4 linked regions of the Homo sapiens genome follow. The protein of the gene in region 1 purifies or fractionates together with the protein of each later gene. This does not show direct contact. Each region holds a gene or a part of one and is shown on either strand. Other genes may lie near its edges. The genes, in order: MXD1, TFDP1, ARID4B and MGA.

Evidence for each region.
Region 2: the proteins of MXD1 (region 1) and TFDP1 purify together in Homo sapiens (affinity purification with mass spectrometry, with the first as the bait; one large-scale study listed by BioGRID). This does not show direct contact.
Region 3: the proteins of MXD1 (region 1) and ARID4B purify together in Homo sapiens (affinity purification with mass spectrometry; 3 studies listed by BioGRID and IntAct, with this or other methods). This does not show direct contact.
Region 4: the proteins of MXD1 (region 1) and MGA purify together in Homo sapiens (affinity purification with mass spectrometry, with the first as the bait; one large-scale study listed by BioGRID). This does not show direct contact.

What each region holds. Positions count from the first base shown.
Region 1 is NC_000002.12:69,941,266-69,943,504, reverse strand, and holds the end of MXD1 (max dimerization protein 1), read right to left. Parts: 3' UTR 560-2,239; downstream 1-559. UniProt on the Homo sapiens protein: Component of a transcriptional repressor complex together with MAX. In complex with MAX binds to the core DNA sequence 5'-CAC[GA]TG-3'. Antagonizes MYC transcriptional activity by competing with MYC for MAX binding.
Region 2 is NC_000013.11:113,639,295-113,641,975, reverse strand, and holds the end of TFDP1 (transcription factor Dp-1), read right to left. Parts: intron 1,857-2,681; coding exon 1,709-1,856; 3' UTR 503-1,708; downstream 1-502. UniProt on the Homo sapiens protein: Can stimulate E2F-dependent transcription.
Region 3 is NC_000001.11:235,178,153-235,181,722, reverse strand, and holds part of ARID4B (AT-rich interactive domain-containing protein 4B), read left to right. Parts: coding exon 1-138; intron 139-538; coding exon of another isoform or gene 539-630; exon of another isoform or gene 631-652; intron 653-3,570. UniProt on the Homo sapiens protein: Acts as a transcriptional repressor. May function in the assembly and/or enzymatic activity of the Sin3A corepressor complex or in mediating interactions between the complex and other regulatory complexes.
Region 4 is NC_000015.10:41,747,350-41,750,919, forward strand, and holds part of MGA (MAX gene-associated protein), read left to right. Parts: intron 1-1,287; coding exon 1,288-1,578; intron 1,579-1,761; coding exon 1,762-3,266; coding exon of another isoform or gene 3,267-3,269; intron 3,270-3,570. UniProt on the Homo sapiens protein: Functions as a dual-specificity transcription factor, regulating the expression of both MAX-network and T-box family target genes. Functions as a repressor or an activator.

The sequences.
Region 1 (2,239 bases):
CCACGAAGCTGGACTCTGCCTGAGCACCTGCCTCACTGCCCTGGATGTTCTCCTTCCCAGCAATGCTCCTTTCCCAGCAAACACTCACTCCTCCTCCAGGGCCCAGCTCGAATGCACCACCTCTAACTTCTCATGGAGCTTTCCCACACAACTTTATTCCACAACTAATTACACTGCATTAAATTGTGTGCATATCTTTCCCAGCAGGCTACAGGCTGCTCAAAAGATGCAGAAGTCTTGGCAGTGCTTACAGCCTGCATCATTAGAGGCACCCAAAACAAAGGGCAAGTCAGCCAAGAATGAGTCAACGAGCAGGTGAAACCAGTAGGTGGGATGATGGGGCAGTGGAGAGGGTGGGACTGTGGCTAATTCTGATCAACAAATGGGCTCAACTGGAGCCACACAATCTCAATCCTCATCACAGGCTCCAAGGGCTGAAAACTTTTAGCTAGTGAAGTTTCCCTTAAATTAAAAGAAAAAAAGAAATCTGATGAACGCAGTTCTGCAAGGACAACCACGAAAGGGTAAATTGTGATACAAAACATCAGAAAGACCAAAATTTCTTTAATAATGAAATAATTTATTATTTGTTAACAGTTGAACAATACAGTTTACATATACACAGCAAAGATTCTCTAAAACATGTAGTAGTTTCTAAAAATGCATGTGCTAACTGTAGTAAAAAGCACCATTCTCTATGATCTTGACACAGGATTTACATTGGCGTCATATTTACATAAAGAAACATCTGGAAACAGAATAGCATACCCTTTCATCTGCTGCTCCCCTGTCAGGCTGTGTGTAGCATTAGGAAGATGGCCCCCCAAAAATGATGGTAACAGCAATATTCCAAGAGCACCAATTCTAGGGATGGGGTAAAGGCAAGTTTGGTTGTCAGGTAAAAGCTAAAATGAAGAATGCTCCCTCAACTTGCCACCCCACAGAGAGAAGAAATCAAAATGTAAAAATCTGGATAAATCTTAACATTGGGTGCCTTATGAATTCTCACTTTATGATTTTGAGAGAAGGTCAAATACTCAATCTCTTCAGCCATTCAATAGCTGAATCTAGCAGTGCCTGTCAATTTCTTCTTTCAGAAGAATCTGAGAAAATCATCCATGTAATATTGATAATGAAAAAAACCATGATAAATCACCTATTGCACACCCCACCCTCTAACCCAGTTATCTTTGAAAGCAAAGCATCCTACAGTCTATAGAGATCAGAGGATGTAGAATGAGAAACCACCTCATCGAAAAGGGTCTTTGGGTTGTCTTCTACCAGGAAGAGTTTTTAAATAGGAGTAGCCAGCTACTAGACACGCTAAACACACTGCATCAGAGTCAAACATAGAAAAAGAATAGATTGACATGCAAGAAATTGCGTTTAGCCTTTTACTACCTGATGTTCAACACTCAGGGAAGGCAAAGGGGGACAGACAAACTTGGGGAAACAAAGAAGAAACAGAAAAGACCAGGATGTTAAAGTCTCCTGTGTGGTTCATGAAAAAATAGAAAATAAAAAAAGACCAAGACTTGGGGGAAGAAATAGACTGTAAAGGACAATGATAGTGGTATTCTCGCCAATACAGTATGGTATAAAAACCTAAATAATAATATGTGTGTGTGTGTGTGTGTGTGTATATATAGATACTTTTCAAAAATAAGTTCTCTCTTGAAAGGATGGGGAAGAGGCAAGAAGAAATAAGCCCACAAAATCTATTCTCAAGCTCCAAGATATTGCTAGATGGTTATTTTGAGCATCACAATCCTACCTAGTTTACACTTTTTTCTTATCCCCCAGGATTTGCTCTTGGCCGCTTTGGGGATGCAGAAGAGAGGCCCATAGGAAACTCAGGTTGAGGCCCCTTTGTTGCTTTTGAAAAAGTAGAGGTTAAAGGAAAATGCCCACCTTAAAAAATAAAAACAAAACAAAACACTCAAGTGGCCAACTGCAGGACGAGGGCCTACTTAATGTTCAGTTCTGAATCAACACTGAAATTATTTTCATCTTAGGTTGACAGGGAAAATCTAGGTCCTGCCTAAAAATGTGATGCATTTTGAATCACTAAACTAGCATTAGGTGTGTGACTACAGAAAGGAGCCAGCAGTTGCTATCAGCACCTTGAAGAATTCAAGATCTCTGCTTAGCAAAAGAAAACCAAAATACAGACGACCTGGGTGCTCGGCCCACCATTCAAAGCCAACAGGGGATGGAAAGCTATGTTTTCAGGATGTTA
Region 2 (2,681 bases), on another chromosome or scaffold:
ACCAAGCCTCCCTTGAAAGCTTTAAGCCTTCAGTAGATTCCGTAGTTACAGAACAGCTGCATCAGGCAGATCCTGCCCGCGAGGTAGACATCTACCTGGGCAGCCAGATTCCTGGTGCTCCCTATTCCACCATCTTCCCAGAATCCTCTCAATCTTATTCTTGTTCTCAAAGTCAAACTTTTAAATTTTGTCTCAATTTTCATTGTGAAAAAAGGCCAAGGAACTTGGCTTATCTTTCTCTGCACCACAGGCACCGAAAAGGAAGGTGCCTCTTTGCCCTGTGTCCACCAAGACCTCCACCCTTGGCCACCTTCCACCTTTTCAGGGTGGGCTCCCGGAGGATGTGCCTCAGACAACATGTGGTGGTGGGGTTTGCACCCACAGGGACCACCCGGGCCCACCGCGTCTGGGCCTAACAACCTACTTTCTCACTCAAGTATAAAGTAAAACCAACAAGACAGACAAATTTCTAGATAATAATCCTGAATTAGAGAAACACAGCTTGTTTAAAATGCCCATGCGCGTTTTATTAATAAAAACTAACAGTGCCAAGTTAAACAAGTCAAACAATTAAAGTCTCTTTATATACCATAAAATATTACAGAAAAGTTTATTTGTGTTTCAATAAAAAGACTATCGTTTTAGAACAGGCAGCTAATAGCAACTGTGCAGTTAATGGGTTTTGTGAATAAATTTTAAAAGAGACTACTGCCTGTCCTTAAATTCCTTTTTCTTTTTATAAAAAAAGAACTATTAAAAATGATTGACAAATTTTGAGTTAAAAAATTGTTAAAACATTCTCTATATTTAATTTCAATTTTATAATAGATTACAGGAAGATGCTTATGAAACAAATACATTTGTTTCAGTACATGTCTTTAAATGATAGACTTATAAGTATGTAAACAACTATATAATAAAAGGTTTCCAAACGCTGCCTGTAAGAAATCAGGCAAATTTTACCATAAGCAATAAACCATTCCAAGCCTTCCAGACAGTCTCCATAGCCGCACCAGCATGGCAATAAGCTTTAACCAAACGAAAACAAACAAACAAAAGCACTTCGCAATTTGTTGCTGCAAAACAGGGAGAGAAAAGAGTGTACAAACTTGATGGAATCACAACAGTCAATATAATTTAAGGGACAATAAAGTCAATAAGGTTGATGGTGTTTATTGTTTAAAAAGTTGAATTCTGCTGTTTGCTTGGGGCTGTTTAGAAAGTTGCATTCTGCTGTTTGCTTGGACACCGTACCACTGAACAAACTCCACAGAGTCTTGCTATCCGCCAGCAGGGGTGCCGTCCAAACTCACGGCAAATAAGCGGCATCAGGGGCTCACCATCCACAACAGGAGGTGTTTTATTTTCATGGATGTGGTTGAAATACAATTTCTTCAGCAAACTCAGCAAAAACTTTTCAGGGGCAAAAATGAACTCTGCACTTAAAGAAAAATAGCAAATGAAAACACAAAATCCTAACAAGTAAATAAACGCTCTGCATCAGCACACTGGTATCAAAACACACATCCACAGCACGTCCTAATCCTACGGGAAACAATCCTTGCTTATCAGAGGTGCATATCTAAATTCAATAGCTTACCAATATCTTCTTGGGAGTAGGCCAAAAGGAAACAGAAAACCCACATTAAAAAAAAAGTTTCTTTTCGCTAAACGTTTTCCTGAAGCCGAATCTGAAGTGGGGAGGACGTCAGTCGTCCTCGTCATTCTCGTTGAAGTCATCGTCCTCCTCGTCGTCCTCCCCGACGTAGGACACCGGAGTCTCCACCCTGGAGCCGCTGTACTGAGACCCATTGGAGCTTGTGGCCAGCATCCCATCTGCACCGTTGGTCAGGTCACTGCAAGGCAGGAGGCGGATGGCGCCGTCAGTGCAGGCGGCCCACCCAGCCTCCCCCCGCCTCAGGGCTTGTGGTCAAATGACAGGCTGTGCCCCACAGGTGTGGGTTTTGTCAGTCACACAAACAGAACGGGGAGGCTGAGTGTCTGCACTACAGCACGCCAACGCTCTGGCACTTACTCCATCTCTGTCTGGTTCTCTTCTGGCCCTGTCTCCTGGAACCCATAACGACAGAAACAGGAGGCTGAGCAGAGCCACACGCTGCCTCTCCCTCACTCATCATTCCATCAGGAGCAGTGCCCCAGAGGGAACAAACTGTAAAACCATTAGATCCCTCCCTCCGGGACTTTCACTCATAACCAGCAACAGGAAAAAAGAGAGCCCGGGGCAGGACAGGATGGAGTCCAGAGCGTGGGTCGAATCTGGCAGCGGGGACTGAGAACCCAGAGGGCTGGCAGCACCACAAAAACCTACCACCAACCAGAGCTCACTACGTTCCTAATGTTTAAAGATGTTTTCAATTAACATAAAACCATATGTACATATTTTAATACATTTTAATGGTATTTATTAACACTACAATAAAAATGTGTTAATGTGCCTTTTGATGAAGTAATTCTGTATCTTGGAAACAAGTCAGAAATGGCGAGAAATTCAGCTGTAAAGCTGCTCACTGCAGTTTTTATTCTAACTGGGAACTACCTAGATGTCCTTTCATGAGGTACTTGTATAAAATGTCTCATCATGCCACTATGAAAATCGGTATTTCGTAAGAAATGGTAATAGCTTTGTTTCCATTGTTATGAAAAACTGACAAGTCTGAAGA
Region 3 (3,570 bases), on another chromosome or scaffold:
ATAGCACAATTGAGGTGGATAGTGTTGCTGGGGAGCTCCAAGACCTCCAGTCTGAAGGGAATAGCTCGCCAGCAGGTTTTGATGCCAGTGTGAGCTCAAGCAGTAGTAATCAGCCAGAACCAGAACATCCTGAAAAAGGTGAGAAGGAAAATGTGTATGTTGACTTATTTTAGGGTTTCCCCTCTTAAAGTTTCAATGATTTCACAGTATCTCTTGTTATAACCTGAGGCGATTAAGTGTCATATTTGTGTGAACATGGTAAAAATGGAAATTTTAAAGGTAATTTGAAAATGAATAGTGGAATGCATTTAAAAGCTTGAGAAGGCTTTAATGTGCTTTGCTTGAGCCATCCATGGCATTTTATTGTGGACCAGAACACATGCTAGAAATTGCACCCAGGCCCAAATCCAAACCTGTTTGAGAATTCATTATATGCAGTGGTTGACTATATGGCATGAGCAGCTTAAATCTATTTCTGTAACATTGTTTTTGCAATTGTAATGTGCAGTTTCTCACGAACATTTTGATTTATTGACAGACCCCTCCACCCTTAACCAAATACTGTATGTAGGGGTTTGGAGCAACCAACTGTCCAGGCACTGCTTTCCTCAGACAACCGTGTCAAACTGATTTTCAAGCCTGACTAACTTGTGTGAGTTTGTAAAGGAATTTGATGCTTTCTTAGATGCATAGCTTCCAAATTGAAGGACCAATGTGTACGTTAATAACCTACAGTAATACTTTTTTGATTTTCCGTGAAATTGTTAAAAGTGGAAATTCAAATCGGTACCTTCCCAAAGTATTAGTGCCTTTCGATGGTGCCATAGCCATACTTCTGTCATCATTTTTCTTATAAACCACTTCATTCAGGTATCTTTAAATCAGTATACTCTAGGCTGACACCTGGCTTTGGAACACACTTTTCCATCGTAAAGACAGAGCACTGGAGTATGTTTTTTATATACCGTAAAAGATTTTAGAATGCTAGCTTTAGGTTTTCAGCAAAGCTTAAAGAGATATGGTCTAGATCAAATTAGTTAATTCTATGTTTTCTCAGGAATCTTGACTTAAAACATTTCTGTTTTAAAATAAATTAAAAAAATACTTGCAATTAAATTGAAATGTTCTTTGCTTTTTTTCACATTTACAAGTATAACTACTATGATTTTATCTGTGCCATACTATCTCATGCAACTGAACTATCCAGGCATGACTAATCTTCAAAATGAAAGAATCCTTTATTTCAGAATATTAGGCTTTCAACAGTAAGATTTTACTGGCCAGGTGTGGTCACTCACACCTGTAATCCCAGCAATTTGGGAGGTCTGGGAGGTCAAGGCGGTGGATCGCTTGAGTCCAGGAGTTCAAGACCAGCCTGGACAACATGGCAAAACCCCATCTCTACCAAAAATACAAACGTCAGCCAGCTGTGGTGGCGCATGCCTGTAGTCCCAGCTACCTTGGGGGCTGATGAGGGAGAATCACTTGATCCCGGAAAGGCTGCAGTGAGCCAAGATCACGCCACTGCACTCCAGCCTGGGTGATAAAACAAGACCCTGTCTCAAAAAAAAAAAAAAAAAAAAAAGAAAAAACAAGAAAAGAAAGAAAAAAACAGGTTTTATTGTTATAGGTTTTCTTGGGGGTTTTTTTTTTGAGATGGAGTCTCGCTCTGTTGCCCAGGCTGGAGTGCAGTGGTGTGATCTGGGCTCACTGCAACCTCCGTCTCCTGGGTTCAAGTGATTCCCCTGCCTCAGCCTGCTGAGTAGCTGGGACTACAGGCGTGTGCCACCATGCCCAGCTAATTTTTTGTATTTTTAGTAGAGATGGCATTTCGCCATGTTAGCCAGGATGGTCTCTATCTCTTGACCTCATGATCTGCCTGCCTTGGCCTCCCAAAGTGCTAGGATTACAGGCATGAGCCACCGTGCCTAGCCTATTGTTGTAGTTTTTAAGAGGTTGTATCCTTATTATGTTCGTAATATCTTACAAAAGATTAAAATTAACAACAAAAAAAAAGAGGATATCTTCTCTGCTAATAGACTAAGTCAACACTGCCCTTTTGAATCTTAATCTTGACTAGGTTAATAATTGTGGAATTTGAAAGCTACTCCTAAATTTAGGGTAATTTATATCTCTTTAGAAATAATTGGTGTTTTTCTTTTTGTTGGGTTTTTTTTTTTTTTTTTTTTTTTTTTTTGAGACATAGAGTTTTGCTCTTGTTGCCCAGGCTGGAGTGCAGTGGTGCAATCTTGGTTCACTGCAACCTCCACCTCTCAGGTTCAAGAGATTCTCCTGCCTCAGCCTGCTGAGTATCTGGGATTAACGCCCGGCTAATTTTTGTATTTTGTTTAGTAGAGATGGGGTTTCGCCATGTTGGCCAGGCTGGTCTACGAACTCCTGACCTCAGGTAATCCACCTACCTTGGCCTCCCAAAGTGCTGGAATTACAGGCATGAGCCACCGCGCCCAGCCAGAAATAGGTTCTTAAGCACCTGTTTCACATGGCCACATTTTAATAAATTTACTTACTATGAATATTGGAGACTCCCCACTATATCACAAGTTAAAATTTAAGTTTTACTATTTAGATGTAGTTTTTTCCTCTTAATTTACTCTACATTGAAGGTTTTTATTTCTTAGTATCTGAACACTTTAGAATTAAACTCTCTTGGAGAGAAACCTGACAATTATGGTTCTGTGCTTCAGTATGGTCAATATCTACGTCTCCTTTATGTTTCACTTAAATTGTGATATTAAAATGACATTAGGTGGGTCACATACTTGGTGTAAAAAATAAAAAAGAAATATTAAAAATTTAAAAAGGTATTAGGAAAAGTTGTAAGTAAGATTATATGACCCATTAAAAAAAAGCTAGGAAGTTGCAGACAGTTAATTACTTGTCCTGTTTTTGATCAAGGAAGTTAGGTTTTATACACAGAAGGTTGATTTGGTGTCTGACATTGGAACTGAATGGAGATAGTACTTTATTAGTCTCTGGAGAAAAAATCTTACTTTATATAGTCTGAGAGATAACATATATGAATTAGACAGAAATATAGCAGATGTTAAGGACCAAATGAGTAGTATAGAAAAATGCTACAGTTCAGAGTAGTGATTGATCAGTGAAGCCTGGAACATCTTAGTGAAGATGTAGGACTTGGGCTAGTCCTTGAAGAAAAGGGAGACATTTATTTGTAATGTTTTGCAATAATTTCCCACCAAGAAGATGAGACGTTTTTTAGAACTACTATGTTGGATTTGTAAATGGTATGCATGTTAACCAAACAGTGCCCTGGGAGCTTAGTTATTCTTGACATAAATTGGTAAAAAAGAACCAAGTATGAATTACTGCTAAAATTTACCTCATTTATATCATTTAAAAATTATATTAATATGATTATAAGACATAATGTCATTAACATTTTAACCTGTGATTAAGTCTTAATATTTTGGTTTTATTGAATCTTAACAAATTTCAGTTTTTATTTTCAGCATATACTTTTAATTACTAGGCTTATAAACTCCCAGTACTATATTAAGGACTATTTTCAGTTTATATCTGATTTTTTTA
Region 4 (3,570 bases), on another chromosome or scaffold:
ATAAGCTTAGAAATTGACCCATAACTCTAGTAAGTGTTATGAGCTTTAATTTTAAAGTTAAATTGTGCAGAATCTGGATTTTATTTAAAAACATAAGAGGCCAGGCACATTGGCTCATACCTATAATCCCAACATTTTAGGAGGCCAAGGCAGGAGGATTGCTTGAGCCCCAGGGGTTCCAGACCAGCCTGGGCAACATAGCAAACTCCATCTCCACAAAAAAAAAAAAAAGCGTGCACCTGTGGTCCCAGCTACTTGGGAGGCTGAGCCTGGGAGTTCGAGGTGGCAGTGAGCTGTGATCCCACCACTGCACTCTAGCCTGGGTGACAGAGTGCGATGCTGTCTCAAAAGAATGAAGTTGAAGCATAATTTTATCATGAATGATCCCTTTAACAGGAATCCAGATTTAGAGAGATAACCATGTTTTTCTTTAGGCAAAAGTATTATCTCTTTAAATGTGCCTCTTGACAGTTGATACTCTATTTTTTACCATTCTAAATGTAAAGCTCCATAATGTCTGGCTGTTCTCAGCCATAAATAGTGTATTATGAAACTACAGAATTTCAGCAACTTTATAATCCAAATTAGACGTTATTTGAAGCAAGGTCAGATTCTGTGCCTTAATGACTGGGCATGGTGGCTCATGGCTGCAGTCCCAGCACTTTGGAAGGCCGAGATGGCAGGATCACTTGAGGCCAGGAGTTTGAGACTAGCTTGAGCAACAAAGCAAGACCCTGTCTCTGCAAAGAATAACATAATTAGCCAGGTGTAGTGACACATCCCTGTAGTCCCAGTTACTTGGAAGGCTGAGGCAGGAGGATCTCTTGAACCAAGGAGTTTGAGACTGCAGTGAGCTATGATTGAGCTACTGCACTGAAGGTGACAAGTGCAACCCTGCCTCTTTAAAAAAAAAAAAATATAGACTGGGCGCGGTGGCTCACGCCTGTAATCTCAGCACTTTGGGAGGCCGAGAACGGCAGATCACTTGAGGTCAGGGGTTTGAGACCAGCCTCACCAACATGGTGAAACCCTGTCTCTACCCAAAAATACAGAAATAAGCCAGGTGTGCTGGTGCACACCTGTAGTCGCAGCTACTCGGTATGCTGAAGTGGAAGAATCACTTGAACTAGGGAGGTGCGGAGGTTGTAGTCAGTCGAGGTTGTGTCATTGCACTCCAGCCTGAGCAACAAAGCAAGACTGTGTCTTAAAAAATATTATGAATACTTTTTTTTCCTACGTGTGTTAAAGGGGAATTTGGGTACCATGTTTCCATTTCCTGTTTTTCAGAAAATGCTGCTCAAATTCCAGTGGCTACTCCACAGGTCTCTCCTAACACAGTGAAACGTGCTGGACCTCGATTGTTGTTGATTCCAGTGCAGCAGGGTTCTCCTACTCTTAGACCTGTCTCAAACACACAACTTCAGGGACATCGGATGGTCTTGCAGCCTGTTAGGAGTCCAAGTGGAATGAACTTATTCAGGCACCCTAATGGGCAGATTGTCCAGCTTCTACCTTTGCATCAGCTTCGAGGCTCTAATACCCAGCCCAACTTACAGCCTGTCATGTTTCGGAACCCAGGTATAAAGTTCTTTTTTATGAACTTTTCTTTTGTTGAATCACTTGGCCATATGGTATGTTAATACACCAAGATTGTTTTTCTTCATCTCTTAAGAGTTACTTTTCCAAAAAGAAAAGCAAACATTGGAAGTCTTGATATGGGCAGTCATGATTTAAAAATTTCTCTCTTATTTTTTAAACCAGGGTCTGTGATGGGAATCCGGTTACCTGCTCCTTCCAAACCCTCTGAGACTCCGCCATCTTCCACTTCGTCCTCTGCTTTCTCTGTCATGAATCCTGTAATTCAAGCTGTTGGGTCTTCTTCAGCAGTGAATGTTATCACTCAGGCACCATCATTGCTTTCCTCTGGAGCTAGTTTTGTGTCTCAGGCTGGTACATTGACCCTGAGGATTTCTCCTCCTGAACCACAAAGCTTTGCAAGTAAAACAGGCTCTGAAACCAAAATAACTTATAGCTCAGGAGGACAGCCTGTTGGTACAGCCAGTCTTATTCCTCTCCAGTCTGGTAGTTTTGCCTTGTTACAGCTCCCAGGACAAAAGCCTGTTCCTAGCTCCATTCTTCAGCATGTTGCTTCCCTTCAGATGAAGAGAGAATCTCAGAATCCAGACCAGAAAGATGAAACAAACTCAATAAAAAGAGAGCAAGAAACGAAGAAGGTTCTACAGTCAGAAGGAGAGGCTGTAGACCCTGAGGCTAATGTAATAAAACAAAACTCAGGAGCTGCTACCTCAGAAGAAACTCTGAATGATTCCTTGGAAGATAGGGGTGATCATTTGGATGAAGAATGCCTTCCAGAAGAAGGTTGTGCAACTGTCAAACCATCTGAGCATTCCTGTATCACTGGGTCACATACAGATCAAGATTATAAAGATGTTAATGAAGAATATGGGGCTAGGAATCGTAAGAGTTCCAAAGAAAAAGTGGCTGTTCTGGAAGTTAGGACCATTTCTGAAAAAGCCAGTAATAAGACAGTCCAAAATTTAAGTAAAGTACAGCATCAAAAACTTGGTGATGTGAAGGTGGAACAGCAGAAAGGATTTGACAATCCAGAAGAAAACTCAAGTGAATTTCCAGTCACCTTTAAGGAAGAAAGTAAATTTGAATTGTCAGGAAGCAAAGTTATGGAGCAGCAATCTAATCTACAGCCAGAGGCCAAAGAGAAGGAATGTGGAGACTCTCTGGAGAAAGACAGGGAAAGATGGAGAAAACATCTGAAGGGCCCCTTAACCAGGAAATGTGTTGGAGCTTCACAGGAATGTAAGAAAGAGGCAGACGAGCAGTTAATTAAAGAAACAAAGACATGTCAGGAAAATTCAGATGTGTTTCAGCAAGAACAAGGCATCTCTGACTTACTTGGAAAAAGTGGAATTACTGAAGATGCCAGAGTTTTGAAAACTGAATGTGATTCTTGGAGTAGGATTTCTAATCCTTCAGCCTTCTCCATTGTTCCTAGGAGAGCTGCAAAAAGCAGCAGAGGGAATGGACATTTTCAGGGTCACTTACTGCTACCTGGAGAACAGATACAACCAAAGCAAGAGAAGAAGGGTGGGAGAAGCAGTGCTGACTTCACTGTTTTGGATTTGGAAGAAGATGATGAAGATGATAATGAGAAAACTGATGATTCTATTGATGAAATTGTGGATGTTGTTTCTGACTACCAGAGTGAGGAGGTTGATGATGTAGAAAAGGTGGTGAGCCCATTTTTGTTGTGACTGAAACCTAAAGGATTTAAATGATTTATTAAAGACAGAAGCTTTTTCAGAAGAGCACTAAGGCATAATACATTTAATTGGATGCCTAGGTTTAAGATTATGACTTAAATGGCTTAGTAGTTCTTTAGGCTGTGTCAATCAAGCATCATTTATTGAGCTTTTATTCTTTGAGACTTGTCTGGTTTTATGGGAAGGCTGGCTTAAATATTTGGGGGATAGGTGCTTGAGAGTCCCTACCGAGTTAGATTTTTAAAATCCCGAAACCACTACTCCCATTTGA